Regions from separate parts of the Homo sapiens genome. Here regions 1, 2, 3 and 5 are each reported to be linked to region 4. The links are microRNA targets in miRTarBase. Many come from high-throughput screens and were not tested one by one. Region 4 holds a microRNA gene; each other region holds the end of a gene's coding sequence.
Evidence for each region. Region 4 holds the annotated microRNA hsa-miR-3925-5p (AAGAGAACUGAAAGUGGAGCCU, at 4,786-4,807, opposite strand). A microRNA usually pairs through its seed, bases 2 to 8, with sites in the 3' UTR of a target mRNA and lowers its output. Matches are read on the target gene's strand: a 7mer-m8 pairs with bases 2 to 8, a 7mer-A1 pairs with bases 2 to 7 and ends in A, and an 8mer does both.

Region 1 (6,465 bases), not on the chromosome of region 4:
CACAAAACACCATTAAAACCAAATAACATCATTTGTAGTATGGCATTCTTAAAAACAAAGCAAATTTTAATGATTTTTTAAAATAGACTAAGCTAATTACTAAACCAAATATTTCATTACTTGTTATAAGAATTTAAATATTATTACTTATTGTAAATGTTTAAACTTGAAATCTTATATAAAAGAAACATACCTCCAGAATAATACCCAAAGACATGTTTTTAAAGCTTTTATTTAAAAAAAGGGTAAAACAAGAGATGACATTTTAAAAAGACAAGACAGTAATTAAATCATAGTACCGTGTCCCTTTTAATTTGCCATAATAATTCCTTTTCTTTGGAGTATTCATTTTTATGCTCATTTCTTTGCAAAGAAAAATTACAAAAAAAATGTTTTCCAGTATAAAAAATGAATACGGGGCCAGGCGCGGTGGCTCACTCCTGTAATCCCAGCACTTTCGGAGGCCGAGGTGGGTGGATCACCTGAGGTCAGGAGTTTGAGATCAGCCTGGCCAACATGGTGAAAGCCTGTCTCTACTAAAAATACAAAAATTAGCCAGGCATGGTAGCGGGCACCTGTAAATCCCAGCTACTGGGGAGGCTGAGGCAGGAGAATCACTTGAACCCAGGAGGTGGGGGTTGCAGTGAGCTGAGATCGCGCTACTGCTCTCCAGCCTGGGCAACAAGAGCAAGACTCCATCTCAAAAGAAAAAAAAAGGATTTGGGGTCTCCTTGGGAGCTATAAACAGTAGATGCATTTTTTCAGTGACAACATGAACATGTGAAACTGATGAAGCAGAAATTGTATCTGATTCTTACATGTTCATGCATATGGTGATAGAAGCACAAACACTTTATCTTGCAGACAAGAGAATATTGCCAGTTTTGACCTATGAAGAACAAAAACTAGGACAAAGCTCTCTGTCAGAGAAATCTCATCATTTTTCAATACCACCAATGCAATTGTGAAATGATTTGACCTAAGGTTTATCTATAATTCCTCAGTTCACAGGTACAACAAATATTGGCTCCTCCTTTTAAAGGCAGTGTGTGTGTATGTATGTGTGTGTGTGTTGTGTTGATTGATTTTTTTTTTTTTTTTGAATTCTGGAAAACTCTTAACATAAAGATTTGGTCTAAGGGTCAGAACTTTGTTCTAGCCTGCAAGGGATCCCTAAGTTCTGTCATTCTACCACTAAAGCCAAGCTTCTTGGTTCTCCTCAGAAGCCTACATCATAGACAGAAACGGAAAGGCAAAAATGAAAAAGAGGAATATGAAAAAGTGGGAGAGAAAAAGAAAAACATGAAAAATTTCTCTATAATTCTATTAAGTGAGAATATGTCAGCTGGGCACAGTGGCTCATGCCTGTAGTCCCAGTACTTTGGGAGGCCAAGGCAGGTGGATCACTTGAGCTCAGGAGTTTGAGACCAGCCTGGCCAACATGGTGAAATCCCATCTCTACTAAACATTCAAAAATTAGCTGGGCATGGTGGTGCACACCTGTAGTCCCAGCTACTCGGAAGCCTGAGGCATGAGAATCGTTTGAACCTGGGAGGCGGAGGCTGCAGTGAGCTGAGATTGTGCCACTGCACTCCAGCCTAGGTGACAGACGGAGACTCCATCTCAAAAAAAAAAAAAAAAGAGAGAATATGTCCTGTGTTAGCTTGCTTAGGAAATAAAGAGAGAGAGAGAGAGGGAGGGAGGGAAAGAGAGAAAGAGAGAGAGAGAAAGAGAGTGAGAGAAAGAGAGAGCAAGAGAGCAAGAGTAAGAAAGAAAGAAAAAGAAAGAAAGAAAAGAGGCCGGGCGCAGTGGCTCACGCCTGTAATCCCAGCACTTTGGGAGGCCGAGGCGGGCGGATCACGAGGTCGGGAGATCAAGACCATCCTGGCTAACACGGTGAAACCCCTTCTCTACTAAAAATACAAAAAATTAGCTGGGCGTGGTGGCGCCTGTGGTCCCAGCTACTCGGGAGGCTGAAGCAGGAGAATGGCGTGAACCCGGGAGGTGGAGCTTGCAGTGAGCCGAGATCGTACCACTGCACTCCAGGCTGGGTGACAGAGCGAGACTCCATCTCAAAAAAAAAAAAAAAAAAAAAAAAAAAAAAGAAAGAAAGAAAGGAAATATGATTTGTGCTGTCATAGAACTCAACATATTTCTGATTTCAGTGATGAAATCATGTTCATGTTGGTTTATCAAACACATGTAATTTATCTTTTATACGTATAAATATCAGATAATAATGTATAAATATCAGATAATATTTATACATGAATCTAAATTTGTATGAATGTCCTGCTTTCAGGCTGGGCTGCGAGTGATTATTTTGTTACTGGATCATTATTTTGTTTTCAATCACTGTGAATAATAATGTTTTGTATGATTTGGTTTATTTGTTTTTGCTCATGAACACCATAACTGCAAATAAAAGAAATACTCTCAAACGTCTGAGTCCATATAAATACCCATTTCAATACCAAATTTGGTAAAAGTCACAATAATTTGCAATGGAAGCACTGAATATGAACTAGACATATCCCATAAATAGTAAAGCTTGGAGCTTTGTATCCAAAGTGCTAAATTGCCATTTTGGAAGTTGAAGAAAAACTTAAATTGCTTTTCTAGCCAGTTAATTGTTTAAATATTAGAATTTTCAATGTAAGCCATGATTACTGAGATTTATATTGGAGAAACACTCAGCAAGAAAAATATTGGCAGCATTTCCAGTGACACTGCTGTTGAAAAACCTCAATCTCGATGCATATAAAAATACTGTCACCTTTTGCTATCAGAAAGTGCTCTTTTCTTCTTTAATGGAAGTCCATAGTTATATGCATTAAACAGAAATTAAAAAGAAATGAGTAAAGAAGAAAAGAGAGGGAAGAGAGAAAAGGCAGGGCAGGAGGAGAGGAGAGAACTGGCCCACCTTCTTCCCAGTATTCTTTTTTTTTTTTTGAGACGGAGTCTCGCTCTGTCGCCCAGGCTGGAGTGCAGGGGCGCAATCTCGGCTCCCTGCAAGCTCCGCCTCCCGGGTTCACGCCATTCTCCTGCCTCAGCCTCGCGAGTAGCTGGGACCACAGGCGCCACCACGCCCGGCTAATTTTTTGTATTTTTAGTAGATACTGGGTTTCACCGTGTTCGAAAGGATGGTCTTGATCTGCTGACCTCGTGATCCGCCCGCCTCGGCCTCCCAAAGTGCTGGGATTACAGGCGTGAGCCACCGTGCCCGGCCCTTCCCAGTATTCAATGTGGCATATGGGGCAGCACCACCTCTGGCAAACTTTAAACCAGAGAGTGCATGTTTTAGCAGGCCACTGAATTAAAATTTGTGGCTCCTGGATTTCAAAGGCGGTTAATGTAGTAATTTGCTGGGAGTTATCAAAGGCAGAGAAAATATTGCTCCATGGTAATATCCTAGCTATGGAAAATAATTAGCACTTTCAGGCAGCAAGGATTAGAAAAGCAAATTTTCTCTGAATTCTCTGCCAAATTCAGCTAAAATTTCAGGATACAGCACAGGAATTCCAAGGCAGACAACCGCACGAGGTTCTAAGGTTTCACATTCTCAAAATTCATCATTCTAGAATGTTCTAGGGTGATATCATTGACCTTTGCGGGCAACCCTTTTCTGCACAGTCAGACCAGTACTGGTAGTTGAGAGTTGTGGGTAAACTTGGCTCTCATAAAAAAGAAAGGCATTGTATTTCAAGTCTTTACAGTAGATGTTTTTGTGGGACTTATCAAAGGAGAGAAGGAACCTCTTTGAGTTGGTGAGCCATCAACAAATCTGAGTGCCATTTGTGTGTTTCACTGGCCATTCTGAACAAGTAGAAAGGAAACTAGGATGGAAGTTAGGAAATTATGTTCCATCCTGGCTCTTTCACTAAAACCCAATTTATGGGTATATAAGATGCAATTTCCCCTATGTGAAAGACAATTCAAAAATTGCTCCATATCATACGTGTCCATACCACAAATGGAAAGCCTAGTACTAAAGTTACAAAATAATGATGTCACCTCTAGTGGTGAAATAAGGAAACAAAATATAACAGCAAAAATAAGAGTTTCCCGTCATAATGGTAGTTTCCTTAACAAAAATAACCACAGGGCAACTGATCAGAAGGAAAGTATTACTCTAAAATTTTAGATTTAAATTTGTTACTACTATAATAATGCTGCATACCAAAACTGATTGACATCTAAACATTTCTGTGTAGTGCTGAGATTTTCATATCTATTTTTTTTTCAGGGTAAGACTGACTTTTTTTTGCTAATATTGCGCCCATGATATCTTATTGGATTCTAATATATATAAGGATATCATATTTACATCAACAAGATAATATTTTTCTTTTTATACTTCCAGATCATTGTCTCTATATAACAAAAAGTATTTAATATTTTAATTTTCAAAAATGTCTCTGTAAATAAGATACATCTTACACAGACTGTATGTCTTACAGAATAGCAATTATATTCAATATGTTTATTTCTTTGTGTTACAATTTCCTTGTTTGCCTTATAGAGATGATTCAGGACCCTACCAAATCCACTAGGCTGTTGCAAATATCAAGATCATCTATGCAATAGTCATTTGAGAAAAATAAAGCATTATGCAAAATATTGCTATGCTGATACCAACTATATGAGCAACTAGGGATTAAGCCAGATCCCCGTGGGGAACAGAATATTCAACTTCCTCCTTGCAGTGAGGTGATAAAACCTGTATGGACCAGCTAGGTAACCCTAGGGGGAAAGAAATTGTTTAAAGAGACCTTTCTAAGGCTGGTAGGAAGTTGAATTTTCTTACCAATAGAAGCAGCTGAACTATTTGTTTTTTACACATTAAATTTGAAGTTGGTCTCTGATTTCCACCCATTGCCCAAGAGTTTAAGAAAGAGAGATGACCACAGCTACTGATGATTAACAGATCAAATGTTTTTGTCTGTGGTAAACACAAACATTCCTGAATTTCCTCTCAGAAGCTATTGTTGCATAGAAATGTATTATGATTTAGTCCTCCACAAATCAAAGTAATTTTTTTCTTTAGAAATACTCCCAGATTGGCTGAGTGCAGTGGCTCACACTTGTAATCCCAGCACTTTGGGAGGCTGAGGCAGGCAGATCACTTGAGGTCTGGAGATCAAGACCAGCCTGGCCAACATGGTAAAACCGTGTCTCTACTAAAAATACAAAAATTAGCCGGGTGTGGTGGCACACACTTGTAATCCCAGCTACTGGGGAGGCTGAGGCATGAGAATCACTTGAACCCAGGAGGTGGAAGCTGCAGTGAGCCGAGATCCTGCCACTGCATTCTAGCCTGGGCTACAGAGTGAGATTCCGTCTCAAAAAAAAAAAAAAAAAAAAAAAGAAAGAAAGAAAAAGAAGAAATACCCCCAGATACATGCTTCATCCTTTAACACTACCCAAGTATCTGAATGATTCTCTCAGATGTATTTTAAATAAAATTCTGTACACATAATCATCTCATCTAATATTTTAGTCTCCCACATAAAAATCTCAGCAAAAAGGCCAGCTTTTACTGAGATTACCTGTTTTAGATGTGTGTTAGAGTGGAAAATGCAAAAGTAGAGAAAAAAGGTTGTAAGGAACTGCTTTAAAATGGAAACAATCTTTTCCACTGGTCAATAGGATTATGGCTAATCTAATCTTGATGTTGAGCCCTTGACCCATATGCTCTACAAGTGTGTCTCTCTGTTTCAAAAGTGTGTATTACTTTTATAACACGGGTGTGGGGGAGTCAGTTGCATAGAAAGAGTCTCAGGAATGCTAGATCAATATAACACCTCAGGTGCCACTGAAATGGTCTCAGACGTTTAGGAATTAGAAGGCTCACAAAAGCTATTTTCACAGCTAGCTCAACCTGCTTAAACAATGTTAAATGAGTAATAGTCTTTTTTTTTTTTCCTTAGAGATAAATAGCATTTTAGAAAAAAAAATAAGGAAAAGCATATTCCCTTTTGGGGGCAACTGATTTGGCAAAATTTAACGAGGTTTTTAAAACTCAACAGTCATGGAGCACCATTAAATATTCACACAAAAAGACCCAGGCAGCTTAGAGATTAGTATTTCCTTGGTCACAAGACACCTAATTGACTTGCAACAAGACAAAATATTCAGTGCATCTGGTTGGGGCCAACATGGATGATGACGTGTTTCTCATAAGCCCTTTTCATTGTTTTCTCAATTTGCTTCAGAAAAACTTGCGGGATTCGTCCACATAAAGTGTGCACAGTCTCCAAAAACTTCAGCTGAAGGGGGTAATACATGGATTGAAAGAGATTGTCTTGAAAGGGAAACTGAAAGATGACAAAAAAAAAGTTTATTTAGTAACGGAAATGCCATTTTAAATGCAGATCATTTTTACTAAGAAATGACACAGGAATTACGATAAGCCCACAGGCACAGGTTTGGACAAGTGAAAAGACCTTTGAGGATCTAACTTAA
Region 2 (6,674 bases), not on the chromosome of region 4:
CTCAGCCTCCCGAGTAGCTGGGATTACAGGCACCCGCCACCATGCCCGGCTAATTTTTTTTTTTTTTTTTTTGTATTTTTAGTAGAGACAGGGCTTCACTGTGTTAGCCAGGATGATCTCAATCTCCTGACCTCGTGATCTACCCGCCTTGGCCTCCCAAAGTGCTGGGATTACAGGCGTGAGCCACTAGGAGACCACTAGACTAATGAAGAAAAGAGAGAAGATTCAAATAAACACAATCAGAAATAAGTGGGCTCTTACCACTAACCCCATAGAAAGACAAGTCAGATAATATTATGAACACCTCTATTCACATAAATTAGAAAATCTAGAAAAAAATCATACATTCCTGGACATATACACCCTCTCAAGGCTGAAACAGGAAGAAATTGAATCCCTGAACAGACCAATAATGAGTTCTGAAACTAAGGCAGTAGTAACAGCCTACCAACCAAGGAAAGTCCAAGACCAGGCAGATTCCCAGATGAATTCCACCAGAGGTACAAAGAAGGGTCAGTTGCTATCACTGCTCCTGAAACGATTTCAAAAGATTGAAAAGGAGGGACTCCTCCCTAACTCATTCTATGAGGGCAGCATCAGCCTGATACCAAAACCTAGCAGACATACAACGTCAACAACAACAACAAAAACTTCAGGCCAATATCCCTGATGAACACTGATGCAAAAATCCTAAACAAAATACTGGCAAACTGAATACAGTAGCACATCAAAAAGCTTATCCACCACGATCAAGTAGGCTTCATTCCTGGGATACAAGGTTGGTTCAACATACAAAAATCAATAAATGAGATTCATTGCATAAACAGAACTACAGACGAAAACCACATGATTACCTCAATAGATGTGGAAAAGGCCTCTGATAAAATTCAATATCACTTCATGTTAAAAATTCTCAATAAACTAGGTATTAAATGAACATACTGCAAAATAATAAAAGCCACCTATGACAAACCCTCAGCCAGCATCACATTGAATGGGCAAAAGCTGAAAGCACTTCCCTTGAAAACCTGTAAAAGACAAGGCTGTCTCTCTCACCACTCTTATTCCCCATAGTATTGGAAGCTCTGACAAGAGCAATCAGGCAAGAGAAATAAATAAAGGTATTCAAATAGGAAGACGGAAATCAAACTATCTTTGTCTGCAGATGACATGATCCTGTATCTAGAAAATCCCATCTCAGCCCAAAAGCTTCTTAAGCTGATAAGCAACTTCAACAAAATCTCAGGATACAAAATCAATGTGCACTAAGTGCTAGCATTCCCATACACCAAAAACAGGCAAGCCAAGAGTCAAATCACAAGTGAACTCCCATTCGCAACTGCCACAAAAAGAATACAATACCTAGGAATACAGCTAATAAGGGACGTGAAGGAGCTCTTCAAGAACTATAAACCACTGCTCAAGGAAATCAGAGAGGACACAAACAAATGGAAAATAAAATTCATGCTCATGGATAGGAAGAATCAATATTGTAGAAATATCCATACTGCCCAAAGCAATTTATAGATTCAGTGCTATTCCCATTAAACTACCAATAACATTATTCACAGAATTAGAAAAAACTTTTAAAATTCATATGGAACCAAACAAAACAAAACGAAACAAAAAACCAAACCTGAGTAGCCAAGGCAATCCTAAGCAAAATGAACAAAGCTGGAGGCATCACACTACCCAAATTCAAACTACAGTACAAGGCAACAGTAACCAAAACAGCATGGTGCTGTTACAAGAACAGACACATAGAGACCAATGGAACAGAATAGAGAACTCGGAAATAAGACCACACACCTACCTATAGCCATCTGATCTTCTACAAACCTGACAAAAACAAATAATGGGAAAAATATTTCTTATTTAATAAATGGTGCTAGGAGAACTGACTAGCCATATGCAGAAAACTGAAACTGGACACCTTCCTTACACCATATACAAAAATCAACTCAAGATGGATTAAAGACTTAAATTTAAAACTCAAAACTATAAAAACGCTAGAAGAAAACCTAGGCAATACCATTCAGGACATAGGAATGGGCAAAGATTGCATGACGAAGTGTCAAAAGCAATTGCAACAAAAGCAAAAACTGACACACGGGATCTGATTAAACTAAAGAACTTCTGCATGGCAAAACTAACAACAGAGTAAAAAAGACAACCTACAGAATGGGAGACAATTTTTACAATCTGTGCATATGACAAAGGTCTCATATGCAGCATCTATAAAGAACTTATGATATTGACAAGAAAAAAGAAAACCCATTAAAAAGTGGGCAAACGACATGAACAGACACTTCTCAAAAGAAGACATACATGAGGCCAACAAGTATATGAAAAAAAGCTCAGTATCACTGATCATTAGAGAAATGCAAATCAAAACCACAATGAGACACCACCTCACACCAGTCAGAATGGCTATTATTAAAAGTCATAAAAACAACAGATGGTAGCGAGGTTATGGAGAAAAAGGAACACTTTTACACTGTTGGTGGAAGTGTAAATTAGTTCAACCATTGTGAAAGACTGTGATGGTTCCTCAAAGACCTAAAGAGAGAAATACCATTTGAGCCAGCAAACCCGTAACTGGATATATGCTCAAAGGAATGCAAATTGTTCTCTTATAAAAACATGCACGTGTATGTTCACTGCAGCACTATTCACAATAGCAAAGGCATGGAATCTAACCTAAATGCCAGTCAGTGATAGACTGGATAAAGAAAACGTACATATACGCCATGGAATACTATGCAGTCATAAAAAGGAATGGGATCATGTCCTTTGCAGGGACACAGATGAAGCTGGAGATCATTATCCTGAACAAACTAACATAGGAACAGAAAACCAACTACTGCATGTTCTCATAAGCGGGAGCTAAACGATAAGAACATATTGGACTCAATGGTGGAAGGAACAACACACACTGGTGTCTGGCAGAGGGTGGGGGCTGGGAGGAGGAAGAGGATCAGTTAGAATAGCTAGTGGATGCTGGGGTTAATACCTGGGTGATGGGATGATTTGTGCAGCAAACCACCATGACACACATGTACCTCTGTAAGAAACCTGCATGTCCTGCACATGGACCCCTGAACTTAAAAGTTGGAAATTTAAAAAAAAAAAAAAAAAGAAATTTCAATGATCTAAACCTTACAATTAGATTAAAAACCAATATTAAAATAAGTTGTTTCTGTAGGTCTTGAAAAAGGTCACTTTTCTTTAAATAAGTTATTTCAAATTCATTACTAGGAATAAATAATCTGGTTTTTAAGTACATAGTAAATACAATTATAATACTTACCTTCAGCACAAGAGTGACATGATTCTCTGGATGTGACTTTGAAGGAATAATTTCCATATAGTGTTTGGGCACTTTGTATCTCAGCAGTCAATTATACACAAACACAAACAACTTTACCACTGTGGTAGAATGTCATAAAATATTAAGGATACTTTCTTTACAAAAGCTGTGATGACACATATGAAGTTTCTAAACTTTTAACAGGACTGGAAAACCAATGCAGAAATCTGCTCAGTAGACAACTTAAAATCTAAACCCAAACATATTTTGATAGATACAATATGCAAAATCTAACTTTACAACAGGAATAGTACTAATTCCTTGTCATTAACACCTTACTAGTACATTAATACCTTTACAAACAGCATCATATAATAGCATAATATTTCATCTTACTCCTCCATCCAGGATCTTTTGTGAGAGGCACTAATAAAGAACACTAGTTTTGGCGACGCTGTATCAAACATACACATAGTATAATGGTCTATTTTACTATGTTCACAAAACATCATTTATAAAGAAATTTTTATGAATTCAAAAATAGGTTGTTAGTAACATGATTACCTTTAAAGTATGGATTTTGATTTTCATTCACAATATTAATTCATTAATCTTAAACAGTAGTTTCATCTACAAAATGTTCTACAGCTTTTTCCTTTTTGAAAAGGAATAAAGGCAGTTAAGATACTCATAACTTCTAGTTAAACAACATCAATTTTGTTTCACAGTATTAATTAGTAGAGAACATTTTCAATTAAAGTGATATACAATTTACAAAAATAGAATGATTTATATATTGCAAAACATTGTCCTCCATTATGAAGAATATATATATACATGTGTGTATGTGTATATATGTGTATATATAAATATTTCTTTTAAATTTTACAATAGCCCTTATTCAAGTACTTTGGGATTCTCTTGAAATAATCACCTTGCTGTATATTGTAAATACATTTAAAAAGTAAGATTAATCTAAGAAAAGGATAAAAGTTTCAGTGTAGTTTGACTTAAAAAAAATCAACCACTTACTTGAGTAAAAACCTGACTGAATTCAAAACAGGTTCCGGTGCCATACTAAGTTCAAGAACTTTGTTAAAAATATAGATAAATTTAAGTGTCAAAGACTTAAACATTTTCCAATTTGCTAGCATTAGAGCAGAATTAAAAGATTGTATTAATCTATTAACTATCCAATCTTAATCCCCAGACAAAATTCATTTATCTAGTATTACTAATACACTAATATACAATATACCTGCTTACAAACACATAGGTAGCCATAAATAAAACTTTATTCTTTATTTCATTTACAAGCTACCAAATATTATGTATCGTACACAGTGCTGAACACTTAAATGGCTGTAGTCATGGAAGGATCCAGACTGAATGGAAAGCTGTTGAGAAAGAAAAGATAAAAGCAAAGTAATACTGCAACAGGAAGGTGGCAAAAGCATAGTTTTGCCATAATAAAATCAATTAGATTTGTGATTATACATCAGTTCCGGTTAAAATGTCTGAGCGCCATGCGATTTTCAGCTTTATTGTCTGCAGTCTGACTAAAGTCTGTATAGTCATTTTGTCTTTTGCAGTTATTAAAATAAAAAAAAGTTAAAAACTATAGCAGCAACAAGCAAACCCTGTGACAGGAAGGCAAGGGTTAAGAACTAAAAAGAGTTTATACAGTGTGTTCAGGGAAAGTGTGCAGTTTATCTTCCATCAGCAGGAGTTCGACTGAGGGACAACATGATTCGGGCAAATCGCTCACAGAGTTCATGCGTGGAATATGAAGGTAACTTCGGTGGCTCATGGAAACTTTTAATCTCCATAGAACAATCAAGCAGTTTTGGCAAAAAATCTGTCAGCTTTTCTTGGAGGTGTGCTGCAAATACAAACAATTAAATCTAACTAAAGATAGAAATTATTACACGATCATTGTCAACATGATTTACTAATATTAACTTACTCTAATAGGTAAGATAATTGCCATTTTGGGGAGACAAAAACATAAATGGCAACTGCAATGCACACAGCTTAGTTCATCAATATGGAAAAAGAGTAATCATGTGAATGTGAAAATATTAATACTTAATATTGTATTTAATATAAAAAATGGCAAGAATAAATAACATCTAATTCTAACTGCATTTAATCCGGACATCTCAGGTGCCTACTACCATTGTTTAAACTTACGTTCCATTTCTTGACCAAGGTAGGAACACCATCGATTTCTCATATCTTCTACAGCTAGTATATCCTTTTCTTCCATTTCATCCACCAGTAATAATGGCAAAAATGGGACAATAAACTCATTCATGATAATCAAACCATTGTTTACTTCTCGATCCTCTCCAGATTCGAAGAGTTCTGCGGCTTGCTCATTTAATTTCTTAATGCAATGCAGGAAAAAAAAAAGAATAGGTTTTTGTTTCCTTTTTAAATTAAGGATCTGTAAGTATTAATAAGGAAGACAACATAAATATGTTCACAAACAGTATTAGAACAAACGGTATTTAGAGAAAACAATCTCAACCTATCTAGAACTGAAAATCTCTCTTTAGAAAAAGCTATGCATATGGCAACAACAGAAACAAAAGCAACAGCGGTGGAGAAAACATTATTGTGTTTTTCAGTCATGTTTGGCTTATGCCGATCATCAACACAGGGGCCATTTTTTCTTCTCTAGAGATTAACTTCCCCAAATTATAAAATTGTATAAGCACTCAAAATAGTTTTAAAAATAAAGAAATTCAGAATCCATATTAATTTTTGAAAAACTCATCTCCATTAATGGCAACTGAATATATACTATTGTATTCCTTGATACAGAAATATAAAGGTAATCAATTCACTTTTCCCTTCAAAAACTTCCTACAGAGTCAACACCACGTGCCAGAAATTTCTGCAGATGCAGGGGCACTCAAGTGATTAATACAGAAAACTCTCATGGAGCTTACAATTTGGTACAAGGATTGGCAAACTTTTTCTGTGAAGGGCCAGACGAGGACTATTATAGGCTTTGAAGGCCATGAAGTTTCTGTTGCAACTATTCAACTCTGCCATTGTAGTACAAAGACAATAATACCCAATATATAAATGAATGTGCATGGCTATGTTTCAATAAAACTTATCTATAAAAACAAGTGGTAGGTGGAGCACAAGCCATAGTGTGCTGATCACTGATCTAGTAGAACAGAGAAATCCATGCAATAAGAAACATAAGAGATAAATACAGGTATAAGACCTATAATATTTAAGGGTTCTTATTTAAAATCTTATGTTTACAGCATGATAAACATGACTTTTAAGCTGAATTTCAAATAAAAAAAGTTATATATTTAGATTTACACCACATAATTCTTAT
Region 3 (6,674 bases), not on the chromosome of region 4:
CTGGTGACAGAGTGAGACTCCGTCTTGAAAAAAAAAAAATTATTTTTTTGAGATGGAGTCTTGCTCTGTTACTGAGACCGGAGTGCAGTGGTGCGATCTCAGCTCTCTGCAACCTCCACCTCCCAGGTTCAAGTGACTCTCCTGCCTCAGTCTCCCAAGTAGCTGGGATTACAGGCAGCGCCACCACGCCTGGCTAATTTTTTAGCAGAAACTTTTAGTAGAAACGAGGTTTCACTGTGTTGGCCAGGCTGGTCTCAATCTCCTGACCTCAGGTGATCCGCCCATTTCGGCCTCTGAAAGTGCTGGGACTACAGATGTGAGCCACCCCACCCAGCCCAGACACAATTATAGTTAGCATTTTGGTATACAGCATTTACTTCCATTTTTAAATTATTTTGCTTTATTAATTAGTTGGTAATTATAGAATATATGAATATATTCAAATTTATATTTTGCCTTTTGGTATGAATATTTCATCAGGATTTATTTTGTGTTGCTACCACATTTTTGTGTTATTTTTTGTTTTTTTAGATTAATGAATGTGTTATGAAAAAAATGAATAAGTTTTATGAAAAAAGAGGCAATTTCTACCAGAACACTGTGGGTGATCTGCTAAAGTTCATCCGGAATTTGGGAGAACACATTGATGAAGAAAAGCATAAAAAGTAAGTATTGTTTTCATTCCTACAAATTATATGTGAAATGAGAACAATTTAAAAAATCCAATTCTAAGTTTATATCTACGATGGAAAAAAGAAAATTTATTTTGATGAAAGAAAAGTAATTCCTTCCCTCTGTGTGTAAAAGGGCTATCACTGTTGCCTTACAATTAATGAGGGACATGTCCAGCAGGCTTTCATCTTCCTTGTCATTTTTTTGTTGGATAAATGGTAAAACAAATTGAACAGGAGCTAGTGACTCCCTTCTGTGAAGTAACACAGGAGACTGGACAGCTAGATAAAGTGAAGGTAGAGTTATATACGTCTAAAAATAGCCCACATTAGTTAGATCAGCTTTTGCTGACAAAGATGTTAGTTGCAAACTCACAAAAAAGCCTTGCAGTTCAGGGCTCTTCTGGATTTTGGAATTGTAGGTAGAGGATTGTGGCATTGCACTATTTCCATTTTATGAAAGAACAATCTAAAGTTCAGAAAGATTGTGGCCAAAGGTTGCACAATTAGTTGAAGAGTCAGGGGAGGAGTCTTGCTCTGTCAGATTCCAAAGTCCTTATTCATTCTGCAATAGAAATCAAGCGAGCAAAGAGATCTTCAGGGCCATATGCTGTGAAGCGGGGAAGAATAATTTGGGGCAAGCATGCTGAACAATTTGTGTTTTATTTCAGGATGAAATTAAAAATTGGAGACCCTTCCCTGTATTTTCAGAAGACATTTCCAGATCTGGTGATCTATGTCTACACAAAACTACAGAACACAGAATATAGAAAGCATTTCCCCCAAACCCACAGTCCAAACAAGCCTCAGTGTGATGGAGCTGGTGGGGCCAGTGGGTTGGCCAGCCCTGGGTGCTGATGGACTGATTTGCTGGAGTTCAGGGAACTACTTATTAGCTGTAGAGTCCTTGGCAAATCACAACATTCTGGGCCTTTTAACTCACCAGGTTGCTTGTGAGGGATGAGTTGCATAGCTGATATGTCAGTCCCTGGCATCGTGTATTCCATATGTCTATAACAAAAGCAATATATACCCAGACTACACTAGTCCATAAGCTTTACCCACTAACTGGGAGGACATTCTGCTAAGATTCCTTTTGTCAATTGCACCAAAAGAATGAGTGCCTTGACCCCTAATGCTGCATATGTTACAATTCTCTCACTTAATTTTCCCAATGATCTTGCAAAACAGGGATTATCATCCCCATTTAAGAACTGAGGAACCTGAGACTCAGAGAGTGTGAGCTACTGGCCCAAGATTATTCAATTTATACCTAGCACTTTATAAATTTATGTGGTGTTATTGGTACCTCTCATTTGGGCACCTTAAAACTTAACTATCCTTCCAGGGCTCTTCCAGATGAGGCCCAAAACATATATAGGGGTTCCAGGAATCTCATTCATTCATTCAGTATTTATTGAGCATCTAGTATAAGTCTGGGCACTGGATGCATGAATTCCACTCCTTCCAGAACCAACTGCATTGGTTTTCCATGACCTTAAGGCAGTAGTTCTCAACTGGGGGGCAATTTTGCACTGAAGAGAGCATTTGGCAGAGTCTGAAGAAGTTTTTGGTGTCACAGCTTTGTGGGGAGCATGCTATGGCATTTAGTGGGTAAAGACCAGGGATGCTGCCAAACCTGCCTTGCACAGGACAGCCCCTGCAACAAAGAATTATCCAGACAAAAATATCAATGGTGCTGAGGTTGAGAAAACCTGACTTAAGGGGCTGGGATGCTTTTGAACTAGCTTAAGGCCCAGGACTGTGGAGTGTGTGGACCACCCCACAGAGGAGGGACTCAGATTTATTTACTCTTGCTGGATCTGTAGTGATGGAGTTCCTTCTGGTGTCAGCCCCACAGGAGGCTCCCAGGCCTCCCTCACTTCCCATACCCAGTCTAGGAGCTCCTTCTGGCTCCCAAGCACCCAGAGCTTTCCTCCGCCTTTTAGTTTTGGTTCCTCCACTGGAATGTAGGCTCCTCACGGGCGATGGCTGTCTTTTCTTGACTTTGTATCTTCACTGCCAAGCAAAAAGTCTGCCAAGTGGGAATGTTTAATAAATATTCATTGAATAATGAATGAACCATCTTCGTACATGAATAATAATACTGTCTTACGTTTTTCTGGTGCTTTATAATGTATACATTACATCTGAGTATTTTATTTTATTTAATTTTCAAAACAATCCTTTAAGGTCAACATTGTTATCCCTATTTTGCTGATGAGGAAACTAAGGTTAGAAACATTTTGATTTCCTCTAGGACGTATAGCTAGGAAGTGTTACTATCTTGATTTGAACAAATTTTCTGGTGCTAAGTCTGATGTTCTTTCCATGAATCATTGTGGTGGTTGAGATGGAGCTTTGTAATGGGAATAAAACAGTACCTTAGGTTCTTTCTGAAAAGGAGGTATCTAGCAATGGATAAATAGATACCACTGAATGAAATTAAATGTTGATTAGGAACAAATTTAAGGCTTAAAAAATACTTTATGAGCAGCAAGATTGCTTTAACTTTTAAAATGAAGCTTTGGTTCTCTGATTTGTAATGAGCACCTGGACATGTCAATTAAAATGCCCATTTGTGAAGCTTACTCAATAAAACTTTAAATTGTCTTATTTAGTCTGATTTTCTTTAAGTGACATTTCCACTTTAAGGAGTGGGTGATATCTACAATAGAAAATATTCACTAAGTAATTCCTGGATAAGTTTTAAGAAAGGTCATCCTGCTGTCTGAAAATGGGAAAAGGAGTTATTTTTGACTTTCTAGTAATTCTGGAATAATGTGGGCCTAGTATGTAGTGAGAGAAGGGAGGAAATGATCATTTTTCCGTCTGCTTGAATTCTCTGAGAGTTTCTGTTGACATTCTGCAAACATTTCTCATTCAGTTGTCATCGTCACAAACATTTCATTGAGCATGTGGTTCATATCAGGTCCTGTATTAGGCAGGCTGATTCTGTACTCTTGCTCAGGGGTAAAAGCTCTATCCCTGTGTGCTTTACTCAGCAGTTGGTGGCATTTACCTGTCTCTCCAATAAGCCTGGGAGGGCAGAGATCATATCCCATTTCCTCACTTGGTGCCTGGTGTGTTATAAGTGTGTAGTGTATTTAAGTTATAAGATACTCCTTGAATTCACTGGTTGAGAAGAACCTTTAACATTTGATTTTTGGTGGGTCTTTGCTGGAGCTGCAGCCTGGGAGAGAGGTAAGTCTTGGAGCCGACCCCTGGGCAGCTCTTCCGTTCTCTACCCCACAAGCTTTAGGACACAGTGGGCTTTCAAGATGATTTGGGTAAAGAACAGCACAACCTTCCTCTGGAGGAGACCCTGGGAAATTCAGCTTTCCTTTTTCCTTTCTGTGGAGATTTTCTCTTAGGCTTGCCTAAGTGCCTAGTACAGTGCCTGGCATGTACTATGCACCCAGTTTTACTTGTTGCTGTTCTTAATTACTGCTATATAGTGAATTGTGTCCCTCCCAAGTTCATACATTGAAGCCCTAACCCCCCAATGTGTTAGTATTTGAAGATGGGGGTCTTTGAGAGGTAATTAGTGTTGGATGAGGTCATGAGGATAGGGCCCTCATGTTGGGATTAATGACCTCATAAGAAGACAGAAAGAGCTCTCCTTTCTCACTGCCTTATGAGCACACAGAAAGAAAGTGTCCATCTGCAAGCCACAATGAGAGTCTTCACCAGGACCCCAAGAGACAAAAGTGACTAAGACAATCACCATAGGCTTGCAGCAAATGTTTATGCTCCTCTGGTCTTCTCCTATCACATGAACAGATTTTTTTTTTTTTTTTTTTTGAGATGGAGTCTCGCTCTGTCGCCCAGGCTGGAGTGCAGTGGTGCAATCTCAGCTTACTGCAAGCTCCACCTCCCAGGTTCACACCATTCTCCTGCCTCAGCCTCCCCAGCAGCTGGGACTACAGGCACCTGCCACCAAGCCTGGCTAATTTTTTTGTATTTTTAGTAGAGACAGGGTTTTACCATGTTAGCCAGGATGGTCTCGATCTCCTGACCTCGTGATCCACCTGCCTCGGCCTCCCAAAGTGCTGGGATTACAGGCATGAGCCTCAGCACCCGGCCATATTTTTTTTTTTAAAAGGAATGTTTTTTCATCACTTCCACAGTGTTTTTCATTTGTGTAAACTTTTCATTGCTTTATGGCCTATTTGCTTAGACTAAGACCAAAAGATGGGCCAGGCATGGTGGCTTACATCTGTAGTCCCTGCATTTTGGGAGGCTGAGGTAGGCAGACCACTTGAGATCAGGAGTTCAAGAAAAGCCTGGGCAACAAGGTGAAACCCTGTCTCTACTAAAAATGAAAAAAAAAAAAAAATTAGCCAGATCTGGCGGCATGTGCCTGTGGTCCCAGCTACTTGGGAGGCTGAGATGAGAGGATAGCTTGAGCCTGGGAGGCAGAGGTTGCAGTGCGCAGAGATCAGGCCACTGCACTCCAGCCGGGGCAACAGAGCCAGACTCTGTCTCAAAAACAAACAAACAAAAGAGCCTGCCAAGACCAGCTCGGTCGGGGAGACCCTAACCCCATGGCGCTAGAGGAATTAAAGACACACACACAGAAATATAGAGGTGTGGAGTGGGAAATCAGGGGTCTCACAGCCTGCAGAGCTGAGAGCCCTGAACAGAGATTTACCCATGTATTTATGAACACAAGCCAGTGATAAGCATTGTTTCTATAGATTATGGATTAACTAAAAGTATTCCTTATGGGAAATAAAGGGATGGGCTGAAATAAAGGAATGGGCTCTGGCTAGTTATCTGCAGCAGGAGCATGTCCTTAAGGCACAGATCGCTCATGATATTGTTTGTGATTTAAGAACGCCTTTAAGCAGTTTTCCACCCTGGGTGGGCCAGGTATTCCTTGCCCTCATTCCAGTAAACCCAAAACCTTCCAGTGCGGGCATCATGGCCACCATGAACATGTCACAGTGCTGCAGAGATTTTGTTTATGGCCAATTTGGGGGCCAGTTTATGGCCAGATTTTGGGGGGCCTGTTCCCAACAAGACCCAAAGATGGTACTAACAAGAGGAGAGAAGTGGGTGGGGAAAAAGCAAAGTAATTGGATTTTTTGAGGCTGTAGAACACCATCAACAGGAGTCTATGTTGATAATATTTATATTTAATATTATTTATTAATAATATTTATTCAAAAATAATAACATAACATTACTATGTTAGCCACTAATATTGGCCTATAAAAATTTAACCCACGAATCTTGAAGTGATTTGATGTCCACAGCAGGAGTGAACCCAAAGCAATGAGAGACATAAACACAGAGAATTTCACTTTCTGCTCACTGAACATTCTTCTTGAGAATCAAGTCTTTTAAAAAATACATTTTGTGAAACTGAATAATTAGCGAAGACTTTGTTTAGCTCTTTTAACAGGGACCAAATGACTGTGACTCAGACAAGGTAGAAGATTATGTGTCTTTCATGTTAATGCCTCAGCTGTTCAGCAGACCAGGAAGTAGGAAGTTACGCTCCATAAGTCAGTGAACAAATAAGACCAAAATCCCTGTCCTCATGAGGTGGGAGCAGGGTGGGGAAGAAAACCAACATCCATAAGGACAGAGTATACTAGAGGGTAATAGTAAGCAGGAAGAAAGTTAAGCAAGGTAAGAGTTGGTAGTTAGGGAAAGTAGATTAAATTTAAAGACGGGGGTCAGGTGGACCGCATCAAGAGGGAGCCTACCAAGTGAAACTGCAAGGAAGCAAAAGAGCAAGCTGTGGAGGTATCTGAGGGAAAGCAAACAGAGGGGACGGATAGTCAGTTCAGAGGCCCTGGGGCCTGTTCATACCTGAGCTGTTTGAGGAGCACAAAAGCATGGTTGCCATACAGAGTGAGCAAAGACCAGCAAGAAGAAGGGAAGACAGAGGGGTCAGGGAACCAGGGAGGGAGGGCCCCAAAGCACATGGAAGGGTTTGGGTTTTTACTGAGATGGGAAGCCCTCAGTGGACTGTGGGCAGAGGAGTGGCAT
Region 4 (6,674 bases):
AGAGGATGAATTGTGTTGCTACTCAATAGAAGGAGAATATGGCATACAAACAATGCTTTTATGCAGAAACATGTGTTTTTGTTTTTGAGACAGAGTCTTGCTCTGTTGCCCAGGCTGGAGTGCAGTGGCGCAATCTCGGCTCACCTCTGCCTCCTGGGTTCAAGTGATCCTCCTGCCTTAGTCTCTCAAGTAGCTGGGACTACAGGCATGTGCCACCACGCCCAATTTTTGTATTTTTAGTAGAGAGGGTTTTGACATGTTGCCCGGGCTGGTCTCGAACTCCTGACTTCAAGTGATCCACCCACCTTGGCCTCCCAAAGTGCTGAGATTACAGGCGTGAACCACCGCGCCCAGCAGCAGAAACATGTTTTAAAAGTACATTCAGGCTGGGCGTGGTGGCTCATGCCTGTAATCCCAGCACTTTGGGAGGCCAAGGTGGGCGGATCACGAGAGGTCAGGAGATCGAGACCATCTTGGCTAACATGGTGAAAACCTGCCTCTACTAAAAATACAAAAAATTAGCCGGGCGTGGTGGTGGGCGCCTGTAGTCCCAGTACTCGGGAGGCTGAGGCAGGATAATGGCGTGAACCCGGGAGGCGGAGCTTGCAGTTAACTAAGATCACGCCACTGCACTCCAGCCTGGGAGACAGACGGAGACTCTGTCTCAAAAAAAATAAAATAAAAAAGGACGTTCATACACTTAAGCTTTTCTGACTGGACACGATGCTGCTATTTAATAATAAACTTTTTTGATCTTAAAAGAATCCAGAGCAGGTCCCCCAGGAGCAGGTTCGTGGCGTATCACCAGTGGGGAAGGCTTTTCTCAGAGGCTCTGAGGCAGTGTCTCAAGAAAGGGGGGAGGCTCCGCTTTCTCAGAGTTGCAGTGCTCACCTTGCTGCTGCTGCCACACATCTGTATGCGCCTTCCTGGTACATCACCATCACCACAGGCTCTCATGATAGTGAGGGCTTGACTCCTTCGGGAACCTCAGTCTCCCCAGCTGGAAGTAGGAGCCATAATGCCTCCCTTTCAGGCTTGTTGGGACAAAGAGATGAGGTCACATAGGTGAAGCATCAGCAACTGTGCCTGGCACAGAGGAGGCCCTGAAAGTTGCCAAGCTCAGCGTTTTCCTTCACATCAGCTCTGCTCCACCCCCTTTAATTACTCACTTTTATAATAATTCAAAGGTAACCCATGACCATGGTAGAAAAATTAGCACATATAAGCAAAAAAAGGGAAAAAAGTGATTCAATAGCTTCTGGTTTTTCTAGCCTTTTTCTTTATTCTGGGTGCTTGGTATGGGAAGTTTCTTCATTTGTGTTTAGAGGGTTTTGTAGAGATGATATCATGGTCCCACTTTGCAAACGAGACAATTGAATTCCAGAAAGAGGAAGTGCCTTCCCCAAGGTCATGCAGATAAGGTTAAGCTGGGTTGAAACCCACAGCTTGAGTCCAAGCCCAGCACCAGAATATCAGGACCACAGAGGCATTGCACACAGGTGGGTCACAGATACCTGTCCCTGAAAAGCTCATGATACGGTATTTTCCTTGAAGGACTTAAACATTCCCCACTGAAAACATCCTGCTTTGTGACTTGCCCCATCCTGAAGTCCTGGGAGTGGACAGTTTGTGAATAAACCACCTGACTAGGTGAGGGCTGTCGGCTCCTGAGTTTTGCTCCCCCAGAGACACTGAGTATGCACCATCCGTGGGCTTGCCAGCATGAAAGTGCTATCATTGTGGGCTTTCCCTTCACATTTTTTTTTTTTTTTTTGAGACAAGGTCTTGCTCTGTCACCCAGGCTGGAGTGCAGTGGTGCGATCTTGGCTCACTGCAACCTCTGCCTCCTGAGTTCAAGTGATTCTCCTGCCTCAGCTTCCCAATAAGCTGAGATTACAGGTGCGTGCCACCATGCTCGGCTAATTTTTGTATTTTTATTAGAGACAGGGTTTGGCTATGTTGCTAAAGGCTGGTCTCGAACTCCTAGCCTCAAGTGATCTGCCCGCCTTGGCCTCCCAAAGTGCTGGGATTATAGGCATGAGCCCGGCCTCCCCTCACTTTAAAGGATGCTCCTTACCTGTTTTTGCTTTCTTCTGGTCTTTCCTGTGGCAACTGTTGTGGGGTTCCCAGCAAATATTTCAGTTTTTTCCTAAAAGAAGTAAGCGTGCACATTTCACTGGCTAAAGTACACTCTTGTGTTAAAATTCTGCATTGAAAATGGGTGAAGTCACCCTGGCAACATGGCAAAACTGCATTTTTACAAAAAATACAAAAATTAAGGCCAGGTGTGGTGGCTCACGTCTGTAATCCCAGCACTTTGGGAGGCCGAGGCAGGCAGATCACTTGAGGCCAGACATTCGAGACCAGCCTGGCCAACATGGCGAAACCCTGTCTCTGCTAAAAATACAAAAATTAGCCAGGCATGGCTGGGTGCGGTGGCTCATGCCTGTAATCCCAGCACTTTGGGAGGCTGAGGAGGACAGATCATGAGGTCAGGAGTTCAAGACCAGCCTGACCAATATGGTGAAACCCCGTCTCTACTAAAAATACAAAAATTAGCTGGGTGTGGTGGCACGCACCTGTCGTCCCAGCTACTTGGGAGGCTGAGGCAGGAGAATCGCTTGAACCCGGGAGGCAGAGGTTGCAGTGAGCCGAGATCACGCCAATGCGCTCCAGCCTGGGTGACAGAGCAAGACTCCATCTCAAAAAAAAAACCAAAAAAACAAAAAAGCTGCGTGGTGGTGCACGCTTGTAATCCCAGCCGCTTGGAAGGCTGAGGCACAAGAATCACTTGAGCCTGGAAGGTCAAGGCTGCAGTGAGCTGTGATGGCGCCACTGCACTCCAGCCTGAGTGAAGGGCAAGACCCTGTCTCAAACAAACAAACAAAAATCAAAGGATGAAGTCACGTAGATTTTGGGCAAATTGTTTTCCAAAATCTGTTAGCATAATTCTACAGAATGTCAAAAAGATAAAGACATCCACCAGTAAACCCTAATTGTTTGATGGTTGTAAGTAGTCACTTGAGATGTGACCGCAATAGGGGCCTGCCCATGGGGAAGGTGGCATACCCACCCATCTCCTGTGCCAACATGGCGTCCCTATCTCCTGGTAGCCCTGAGGCGAGGGTCAGGTGAAGGAAGTTGGGATCATCATTTACTCAGTTTGCCTATCTGTAGAAAGGGGGTATTTGGGCTGAAGGTGGCCTGTAACTCACAGGATGATCTGTCCCCTCTTCACACTGCACCCTGCAGTGAGGGGAGCAATGACTGAGTCAACCACTGCTTTAGGCAGCGGGGGTCCTTGATAAGGAGATAAGTTTGCCACACTGGGACTGATGGTCCTCAAGTTCTTTTCCAGCACCGATATTCTAAGATTCGGTGACTCCAGAAAAGCAATAAGGCCGTTGTGAGGAGGGCAGATCCAGAGGATGATCTTCCTGGAGGGGAGGGGAAAATGTTCAGTGCATACAGTGGGTAATGGTTCATCTGAGGTGGCATCAGACTGTACAACAAGCAGGGATTGTTCTGCAGGGTTCAGGCGACTGTTAGTATTTGATCAAGATTGGAATAGTCTCCTAAAACCTACTTGATCCTCACAGAAAAGTTCCTATCCCCATTGTGCAGATGTGGAAACTGAAGGTTAGAGATAGAAAGTTAGACCCTAGGGTGAGGCAATGGATGGCTAGGACTAGAACCCAAGGCAGGCTCCTAGGGCTCCTGCTTTTCCAGCACGCATCTACCATGCATATGTGCTACTACCAGGCCTGGCGCTAGGATTCACATCACTTTAGAGGCTGCTTGGTGAACATGGGCACCCACAAAAGCCCTGGAGAAGGCAGGTTCTTTCTCAGGAATGGCCAGTGGGTGTGAAGATCACAGTGTGGGAGAAAGATCAAGGAGGACTGAGGGCCACCCGACCAGGAATCATCTCCAGCAGCCTGTGGGTGACCGCTCGTCATCCAGATCAGCATCAGGAAGGTTCTGCACAACACCTCTAGGGAACACATGGGGATCGAGGTCCTGTGGCCGTCTTGGGGTCTGAAGATCTAGATTTAGCTTCTGGCAGTATCATGATGCAAACCTGGGCAAGTTGTTTTGTTCCCTGGACCTTGGTCTCTTCATCAGTGAAATGGAACTAATTATATTACCTCATAGGGCTATTATAAGGCCTAATAAAAAAAAAAAAGAAAGCATCCATAAACAATGTTTACTGAGCACTAGTAGTGCCAGGCACTCTTCACTTGTATTAACCCATTTGATCTTCACAAAAAATATTTTCTTTTTTGTTTGAGACGGAGTCTCCCTCTGTCGCCCAGGCTGGAGTGCAGTGGCGTGATTTTGGCTCACTGCAGCCTCCACCTCCCAGGTTCAAGTGATTCTCCTGCCTCCGCCTCCCGAGTAGCTGGGATTACAGGCGCCCGCCACCACACCCGGCTAATTTTTTGTATTTTTAGTAGAGACAGGGTCTCACCATGTTAGCTAGGATGGTCTCGATCTCCTGATTTCATGATCTGCCTGCCTCGGCCTCCCAAAGTGCTGGGATTACAGGCGTGAGCCACCGCACCTAGCCCACAACAAATTTTAGAGAGTAGGTACTATTGCTGTCCCCATTTTAGGAAACACAGAAGTTGGTTCCAGCCACAAGGAAGTGGCTTCATCCATCATCAAGAAGTTGATTCCAGCCCACGTGGATGGCTTTGAGGAGTTCAAGACTTTAGTGGAGGAAGTGATGAAAGATGTGGTGGAAATAGCAAGAGAACTAAAACTGGAGTCTGGAGATGTGACAGGCTCCACTTTCAGTTCTCTTGCTATTCCCACATGACCATGGTCCAGGATCCTGAGTTTATGTTCAGGAAATAAGACTCAGCGAAAACTTGCAGTCACTTTCATAATCATTAATGCAGAGATTCTCAATAAATTCTTAAGGCTCCACCACGCTCCAACATAAAGTAACACATTCAGTTTGTTACAGAAATGGTAATAAGGCAACACTATGCAATACTATGTGTACAATGCAGCACTTTGCAGTACCAAAATCCATGCCTACAAAGCACTGCACAAGAACACATACAAATAAAGGATATAGTAGAATGGCTGCCTGTGGGGTGGGGGCATGGAAATGACAATGGAGTGAGGGGGGAATACATGAAGCAAGAGGTGACTAGTCAGGACCAATGATGACAGCCAGCCATCACCTGGGGAATAGGAGGGACTCATCCCACTGCACCTGAGGACTAAAAATAAAATGGAATGGAAACAAGACCCTGGGTGAAATCACTCGGCCTGAAATACACTGGCCCTGGGCTCAAAGAGGAAAGGTGGGGACACATCCTGGGCTGCCTCATCAAACCAGGAGCCTGCAAGAGCATCCCTGTGTGTGTGTGGAGGGGGTGAGGACAAAGGGAGGGTCAACCACACCCAGTTCTGTGAGCTCAAACACCAGACTAAAGGCCACAGGCAGACCCTCCAAGGCCTCAGGGAAGGAGTGAAGAGAAAGGCCTGGGTGGTCAGTGTCAGAGGCGGCACAGTCACATGCTGTCATGCCTATTTCACCAAGGTTTAGCCAAATGCACTATTAGGGTGTCAAGAAAATATGGATATAGGGCAACAATCCTGTGATTGTATGATGACTGTAGGCTTGATCATCATAAGGGTCCTGCCATATGCTGGTCCAGTTGGCACACCCACCCATCTCCTGTGCCAGTGGAGTGTGCCTGTGAAACAGCAGTCAGCTCTTCTGGTGGCCCTGAGGATCGGGGTGAAGGAAGAGTGGATCTTCATTTAGTTAGTTTGCCCCTCTGCAGGAGGAGGGGAGTTGGATACAGACCTCTCCTAACAACCCGCCTGGCTACTGGAACCTTCCTGAGAAATGTGGTTAACCTCTGGGCGCAGAGCCAGCAGTTCTAGGCTCCCGTCACAAGGGGGCAGGATGGGGAAGAAAACAGGTTCTCAATTCCAGGCCTTGGACCTGTCAGGTTTGCTGGCAGGGGCAGGAAGGAGGGTGGGGTCGGGAGTGTGTGGTGGTTGATGAGGGATCCAACCATCGTTCCGCAAGAGCGGCTTGTTTATTAAACATGAAATGAGGGAAAAGCCTAGTAGCTCCATTGGATTGGGAAGAATGGCAAAGAGAGACAGGCGTCATTTTCTAGAAAGCAATCTTCACACCTGTTGGTCCTCACCCATTGAATGTCCTCACCCAATCTCCAACACAGAAATGAGTGACTGTGTGTGCACATGCGTGTGCATGTGTGAAAGTATGAGTGTGAATGTGTCTATATGGGAACATATATGTGATTGTATGTGTGTAACTATGTGTGACTGGCAGCGTGGGGAGTGCTGGTTGGAGTGTGGTGTGATGTGAGTATGCATGAGTGGCTGTGTGTATGACTGTGGCGGGAGGCGGAAGGGGAGAAGCAGCAGGCTCAGGTGTCGCCAGAGAGGCTGGGAGGAAACTATAAACCTGGGCAATTTCCTCCTCATCAGCGAGCCTTTCTTGGGCAATAGGGGCAGAGCTCAAAGTTCACAGAGATAGTGCCTGGGAGGCATGAGGCAAGGCGGAAGTACTGCGAGGAGGGGCAGAGGGTCTGACACTTGAGGGGTTCTAATGGGAAAGGAAAGACCCACACTGAATTCCACTTAGCCCCAGACCCTGGGCCCAGCGGTGCCGGCTTCCA
Region 5 (6,674 bases), not on the chromosome of region 4:
ATTGATAGAAGTCTACTATGCTCCCTTCACTAATTTTTTGTGTGAGCAGAAATAGCTTATGTAAGACTGATTGCCGTGGTGTATGACATACTGTAGTGTAGCTTACCGTTTCAAAGCTTATTTTTCCCTGGAGGCCTTGGTTTGTATTCTCCTTTCATCACTCATTAGTGTTGTGACCCATGGGACAAGTTACTTAACCTCCCCGGCCCTTAGTTTGCTAGTCCTTAAAGTAGGTATCTACCATCAGAGGGTTGTTGTAAAGGTTAAGTGAGCTAATAAATTTGAATAGAGCTGGGCACAGTGGCTCACGCCTGTAATCCCAGCACTTTGGGAGGCCGAGGCGGGCGGATCACGAGGTCAGGAGATTGAGACCATCCTGGCTAACACGGTGAAACCCCGTCTCTACTAAAAATACAAAAAATTAGCTGGGTGTGGTGGCGGACGCCTGTAGTCCCAGCTACTCGGGAGACTGAGGCAGGAGAATGGCGTGAATCTGGGAGGCGGAGCTTGCAGTGAGCCGAGATCGCGCCACTGCACTCCAGCCTGGGCAGCAGAGCGAGACTCCATCTCAAAAAATAAATAAATAAATAAATTTGAATAGAACACTTCCGCGACACATAGTAAGTACTCTTAGATACTCATTTTAAGAAATTAGAAAATTACATTGCTGGTGAAGAGCATAAATTGAATATATTGAAATGTTTCGTAGCCCCTTAACTACTTTGGCTCTGTTAGGAGGAAACGAAGGCCAAGACTATCCAAAATTCTCAGGAGGTGTTAAAGAGCAAATTAAAGTTTATGTCAAATTAATGAAGTTTTTATTTTAAATGTATATGTACTTTGCATAAATATGTACAGTACCATCTTTTCACACTGGTGATGATGAGGTTTTATTCTAAGCCTCCAAATCTATGGAGAAGGTGGCAATTTTTTTTATTTTTTATTTTTTATTGGGACGGAGTCTCACTCTGTCGCCCATGCTGGAGTGCAGTGGCACGACCTTGGCTCACCACAACTTCCGCCACCCGGGTTCAAGTTGCACTCCAGTCTGGGTGACGAGTGAAACTCTGTCTCATTAAAAAAACAAACAAAAAACTGAACTGTGAGAACTTAGCTGATTTATAATCTGCTGGTTCTTTTTTTTTTCTGAGTCGGAGTCTCGCTCTTTTTCCCAGACTGGAGTACAATGGCGTGATCTTGGCTCACTGCAACCTCCGCCTCCTGGGTTCAAGCAATTCTCCTGCCTCAGCCTCCTTGAATAGCTGGAACTACAGGCGTGTGTCACCATGTCTGGCTAATTTTTGTGTTTTTTTAGTAGAGACGGGGTTTCACCATGTTGGTCAGGCTGGTCTTGAACTCCTGACCTCGTAATCCACCCGTCTCGGCCTCCCAAAGTGCTGGGATTACAGGCATGAGTCACCGTGCCCAGCCTCTGCTGGTTCATTATTACAGCTTTCTTTATCTTTGATAGTGATAGCCAGCTCATCAGTACTCTTAAGTCTGGTCACCTTGATTCTTACAGCCCATCATGTTCAGAGGTGAGGTCCGTCTGAATGTCGAAGAGAAGAAGACTCGAGCTGCCAGGGAAGGCGACCGACGAGATAATCGCCTTCGGGGACCTGGAGGCCCTCGAGGTGGGCTGGGTGGTGGAATGAGAGGCCCTCCCCGTGGAGGCATGGTGCAGAAACCAGGATTTGGAGTGGGAAGGGGGCTTGCGCCACGGCAGTGAATCTTCATGGATCTTCATGCAGCCATACAAACCCTGGTTCCAACAGAATGGTGAATTTTCGACAGCCTTTGGTATCTTGGAGTATGACCCCAGTCTGTTATAAACTGCTTAAGTTTGTATAATTTTACTTTTTTTGTGTGTTAATGGTGTGTGCTCCCTCTCCCTCTCTTCCCTTTCCTGACCTTTAGTCTTTCACTTCCAATTTTGTGGAATGATATTTTAGGAATAACGGACTTTTAAAGAAGCAAAAAAAAAGACTGAATTTCCTTGCTTACTTTGCATATACAGACTGGATTTTTTTTTTTTTTTTACAGCCATTTCCCCAAAGGAATGTCTTGCATATTACTGACATTTGGTATGTTTCATTCATTGGAATATTTCTTATTTTCTACGTGTTTGAAAAGCCTGTAAGAAATACAGGATTTGATAATATTTTGAAGGCAGGAAAAACCCAAATTGTTTCTTCTTTGAGAGTCATGACTACCTTCTGGTGTGGAGAAATTGCCATTGGAAAATTTGACAATTTTGATTCTCACTGGTATGTTTAAAAACTGAATAAAAGGAATAGAATTTTTTTTTGATAAAGGATCACAAAACAATTCTAAAACCTAACTGTTTTTACCATTGAAATTTAAATTGTGATAATAGGTTTTAAATGTCTAGAATGCAACTGATAGGCTTTTCTTGAACTGTTAGTTTTTTTGAAGTAGTTTTTTCATGTTTAATTTGTATTTGTAAAAAAACAAAAAGCAAAAAAATTCCCAAAACCCAGATAACAACCAGAGCAAAACTGTTGTGCCTTCTATTTATCTTTGATTTCAGTCTTGGCAATTGTTTAAAAAAAAAATCTAGATTTGTTTTATTAGGTTCAGAGTATGTGGGGAATTATAGAATCCCTCTTTCATCACTTTGTGTATGTCTTTTGTTAACATATTTGTTATGCCTTATTCTAAAATTGAGTCTCAAACTGGAATGCCTTTGAAGACAGATGCTTCTATAGAGGTTCTTTGACCTAAATAGTTCAGCATTTGTATTTTTATTCTGGTATCTAATCAGATTCCTAATCATAGCCCGTAAGAAGGAATGTTACTTTAATATTGGACTTTGCTCATGTGCTCGTGTCCGCATTTTTTTTTTTCTTAAAATCATAGCCATATGGTAAATTTTCTATTTTGTTATGGTTCTCTTTTATTGATGGGCATGCAGTGGGTGTTACTTGGAAATGGCCAATTTTTATTAAAATATTTCTGGAAGAAAATTTAATCTGGCAATATAGACTAATACTCGTTTCACATATGTGTTATTTGTTGAGTGCTGTGTGTGAGATGGGTGAAGGTTTTGTTTACACGTGTGAAACAAACTTTTGTGTGATTGTCATTACTAATTGAAGGGCAACCAGGTTGTAAAATTCAGCGTATTTATTTTCTTAACAGTATTCATCTTTAGGACTGTCGTTTGAGGATAGCATAGGAATATTTGGTTTGCATTACTGAGAAACTCTAGGTTTGCTGTGATGGTTAAGACCACAGTGAAGTTGGTATTACCAGTTTGGTTCCAGTTCCTCAAATATTTGAAAATTGGCAGCATCTCCTTTACATAAACTTAATGTAACTGAATCACATGGCTTTTTTGTAGGGTTAAAGTAACTTTGGTAACCACTTTTGGCCCAGATCACTGATAATAGGAAGAAATACAACTTATACTTTTGTAGCTTATATTAAGCATGTGGTGGGTGGAAAGAAAAGTTTAGTCTGAGTCACTTTGGAAAAAAAAATTACTTTGTGGTAACTTCAAGGTCATAAATTATGGATAGCCTAGAAATTATCCTTCATGAGTGAATACTAAATTATACATTTCAAAACAGAAGTTCTTCCTACTTGGAGACTTAAGGGCATTAACTAGATGCAGCAATCCTCAGCTTGGTGTTATCACATACTAGAGGACATTTGGAAATGTGTGAAATTTGGAAGGGTTGTTGGAGAGACATGCATCTGGCATTTATTGGGTGGGGTCTAAGGATACCAAATGTTGTGTAAAAATGAAGCAACCCCATTGAGAACACTGATAGTCCCTATTCCTGTGGGTGGGTGGAGCTGTGGGATTAGGAAAACTGGAATGAAGACTCATTCTTTTGAAACTCAGCCTCAGATAAATAACAAACTAGGAAATGGAAATCTGTTTCAAGAATTGCAGTAACATCTACTCTAAGGAATTAGTAATTTCACTTTTTATTATTTGTACCAAATGTATGTGTGTGTTGTGTATGTTGGTGTAAATGTGGAGAGGTGGTAGCAATACATACTGATGCTGCTTGTAATTTGTTGCAGGGAATTACTGCACAATCTCAGAAAATAGAAAGCTTCCCCAGTGCTTTCTGTCATCAGAGTTGGGATGATTGTGAGGTTTTGAATGATAGTATTGGACCTAAGAAATAGGATTAGCATCATGATCAGAACTGTTGAGAATCCTTGTACAATTATGTACATTATTGCATGTAGAGTAAACCTGAGAGCTTAGAGATGTATACGTTTCCACTGCTGGAAAATCATTATAAGTTAGGGCAACATTTTCTATAGGTGGCAGCAGTAGGAGCTCATCACATTGAACATTTTCAGATTTTAAAATGAAAATTTTCATCCGTAGGAATGGCCCAATGTATAGTTATTAGCTACTGAGCTTAGAACTCTTGACCCATGAGATTTTTTTTTTAAATTTTTATTTTTATAGAGGCAAGGTCTTGCTATGTTGTCAGGCTGGTCTCAAGCTCCTGGCCTCATCAGTTCTCCTGCCTTCCAAGTAGCCGGAACTACAGGTGTGCACCATTGCACCTGGCCTCATGAGTATTTTAGTTAGATAAGATTTGTTTGGTTCAGTGGGTCTTAGTTTTTTAAGACCTGTTAATTTGTAATTAGACATCTTGGGCCTTAAACTGTATTTTTGTTTTAGTGGTGAGGTTGGGTTTTACTTTGTGTATTCCAGCGTTCTCAACTTTGTCAGATATTGCTAGGGACCAGTGAGATAGATAATCCAAAAATAATAATTTGACTTTGGTTGAGTATGTCATTACCACAGTGTTAGTTGAATTGCACTTTAGGTTAGAAAAGTTAATTTTCACATCTGTGCTGCGGGTTAGGTGATATTGTCCTCAGCACAATAGATGAGGAAGAAACTGAATCAGAACAGTTAAATGACAGGCTTCCAAGTCATCCATGTAGCAAGGAGCACATTTGCCTCCCAAACTGATGCTTTTTCTCTAGAACCATAATGCCCCCCTAATTACATTTCAGTAGCATAGACCGCAATGAACTTCCTACTGTAGGGAGACTTGAGTCTGGAATACATTCAGAACAAGGTTAACATTACAGTTCTTAATTTCCTTTAGGGCAAACAAGATAATTAAACTTGGGTTTTGTGAGTCTTTTTTTGATTTGCAGATTATATATGGTAACACAATAATGGTGGTTTGTTTTTAAGTTTTTTCTCATCAGGTTTGATAATTTAATGCAAACTTCAAATCTGGATGTGAATAATAATATTTTTATTATAGTATAATCCAGGTGAGTTTATAGAATTTGTGTTTTGTGCTTATAAACTGTCACCTTCTGATACTTTTCTTCATCCCTCTATTTGAAAAACCCTTGTAGAATTTAACGATTTAATGGAAAATGTTGCACTTTATAGAAGGCCATTTTAGAACTTACAGGTAACCTTTTTGAAGAGCTTAGATTTGTAGACCACTGTTTATGCTGAGTGACATTTCTTTTAAATGGTTGCATTTGTCAAATCTATAAAGATGTTTTTTATATTGCAGTTTTCTTTTTGTGCTACTTAAAGGAATCTTTGCAATGCTGCATATAGATAATTGTTGACCTTTTTAGTTCAGCAGTTTTTAAACTTGAAGTAACATCAGCATTTATTTGAATATCAGGTTTTAGCTAACTGCCTAATGTACCAAAAAAAAATTAGCAATGTCTTATGTGGGATGAGGGGTTAAGTTAAAGTTGCTGATCAAGTAATGGCCGTGTGGCACAAGATGATAACTAAGAATTTCTGGTTCTAAGGTAGTAATGCCTTTTGGGATTTATATTTGTTTAATGTTGAGATTCTGGGGACCATAGGTGGGCCTGTCAACTCTTAACAGACTATAGTAAAGGAGAGATGGTGGCACATGTGAGATAAAACTTGTTTATATTTACATTCTTATTAGTGGATAGATATCACCTCAGTACAACACTGAAATTAAACTGCCTTGTTCATGCTTTCATGTCTCAAATCAAGGCCTAAATGAGTAAAAAGATGATTACAGATTACCTAAAACCCTTAACCAGTTTTGGTTTTTGATTATGCATATGTGTTGGCTTGCAATTAGGTTTTTAGTTTCTGTTTATGTGACTTGTTTGAAAACATTGGATTCGTCTTCTCTCCACAGTTTCTACTTGAACCTAGTAGCTTATTTTAATTCCCTGTAAGAGGAAAATAATATAGGGAATCTGTTCAACTATTCCTTTAATAAATCATGTGACTTGGCCAATTACAGAAATTCCTAAGTGTAGTATTTTGAAATGTGGCCAGTGTCCCAGATTTGTAAGGTACAGTGTGCATACAGTGTGTCTTAGGATTTTTTTAAGTAAATTAAGGATGTTTACCAGAAATTATTGATTTACTGAACCAAGTATTTATTTTCAGAAGCCCACTTTTGGGGAAGGTTGCCTATATTTTTGATAGTAATTAGATGGAAGATTAAATCCTGTTTAACCTGGATAGAAACAGTTTTAACTATTGCTGAAGTTAAAATCACTTTGGGGTGGGGTGGGGTGGCTCATGCCTGTAATCCCAGTGCTGTGGGAGGCTGAGGCCAGAGGATTGCTCGAGGCCAGGAATTTGAGACCAGCTTGGGCAACATAGCAAGACCCTGTCTCTACAGATAATTGAAAAGTGAGCCAGA

Region 1: miRTarBase lists GXYLT2 as a target of hsa-miR-3925-5p. Seed matches in the 3' UTR shown: 7mer-A1 at 5,587-5,593.
Region 2: miRTarBase lists USP25 as a target of hsa-miR-3925-5p. Seed matches in the 3' UTR shown: 8mer at 4,049-4,056.
Region 3: the mRNA of RNASEL is a reported target of hsa-miR-3925-5p. Seed matches in the 3' UTR shown: 7mer-m8 at 3,202-3,208.
Region 5: miRTarBase lists G3BP1 as a target of hsa-miR-3925-5p. Seed matches in the 3' UTR shown: 7mer-m8 at 2,910-2,916 and 7mer-A1 at 4,979-4,985.

The regions. Positions count from the first base shown.
Region 1 is chr3:72,974,829-72,981,293 of GRCh38, reverse strand. GXYLT2 (glucoside xylosyltransferase 2) reads right to left here. Exons shown (of 7, transcript NM_001080393.2): 7 at 4,379-6,317. The coding sequence ends at 6,135. Among named protein-coding and RNA genes, the nearest start is that of PPP4R2, 19 kb to the left of the region's middle. RefSeq lists an enhancer at 3,823-3,892.
Region 2 is chr21:15,876,821-15,883,494 of GRCh38, reverse strand. USP25 (ubiquitin specific peptidase 25) reads right to left here. Exons shown (of 26, transcript NM_001283041.3): 25 at 5,504-5,699; 26 at 3,431-5,192. The coding sequence ends at 5,020. Among named protein-coding and RNA genes, the nearest start is that of USP25, 150 kb to the right of the region's middle.
Region 3 is chr1:182,570,247-182,576,920 of GRCh38, reverse strand. RNASEL (ribonuclease L) reads left to right here. Exons shown (of 7, transcript NM_021133.4): 6 at 532-665; 7 at 1,343-3,287. The coding sequence ends at 1,529. Among named protein-coding and RNA genes, the nearest start is that of RNASEL, 16 kb to the left of the region's middle.
Region 4 is chr6:36,617,695-36,624,368 of GRCh38, forward strand. It overlaps MIR3925 (microRNA 3925), which reads right to left and starts at 4,818; the gene lies at 4,742-4,818.
Region 5 is chr5:151,802,363-151,809,036 of GRCh38, forward strand. G3BP1 (G3BP stress granule assembly factor 1) reads left to right here. Exons shown (of 12, transcript NM_005754.3): 12 at 1,523-6,674. The coding sequence ends at 1,729. Among named protein-coding and RNA genes, the nearest start is that of G3BP1, 34 kb to the left of the region's middle.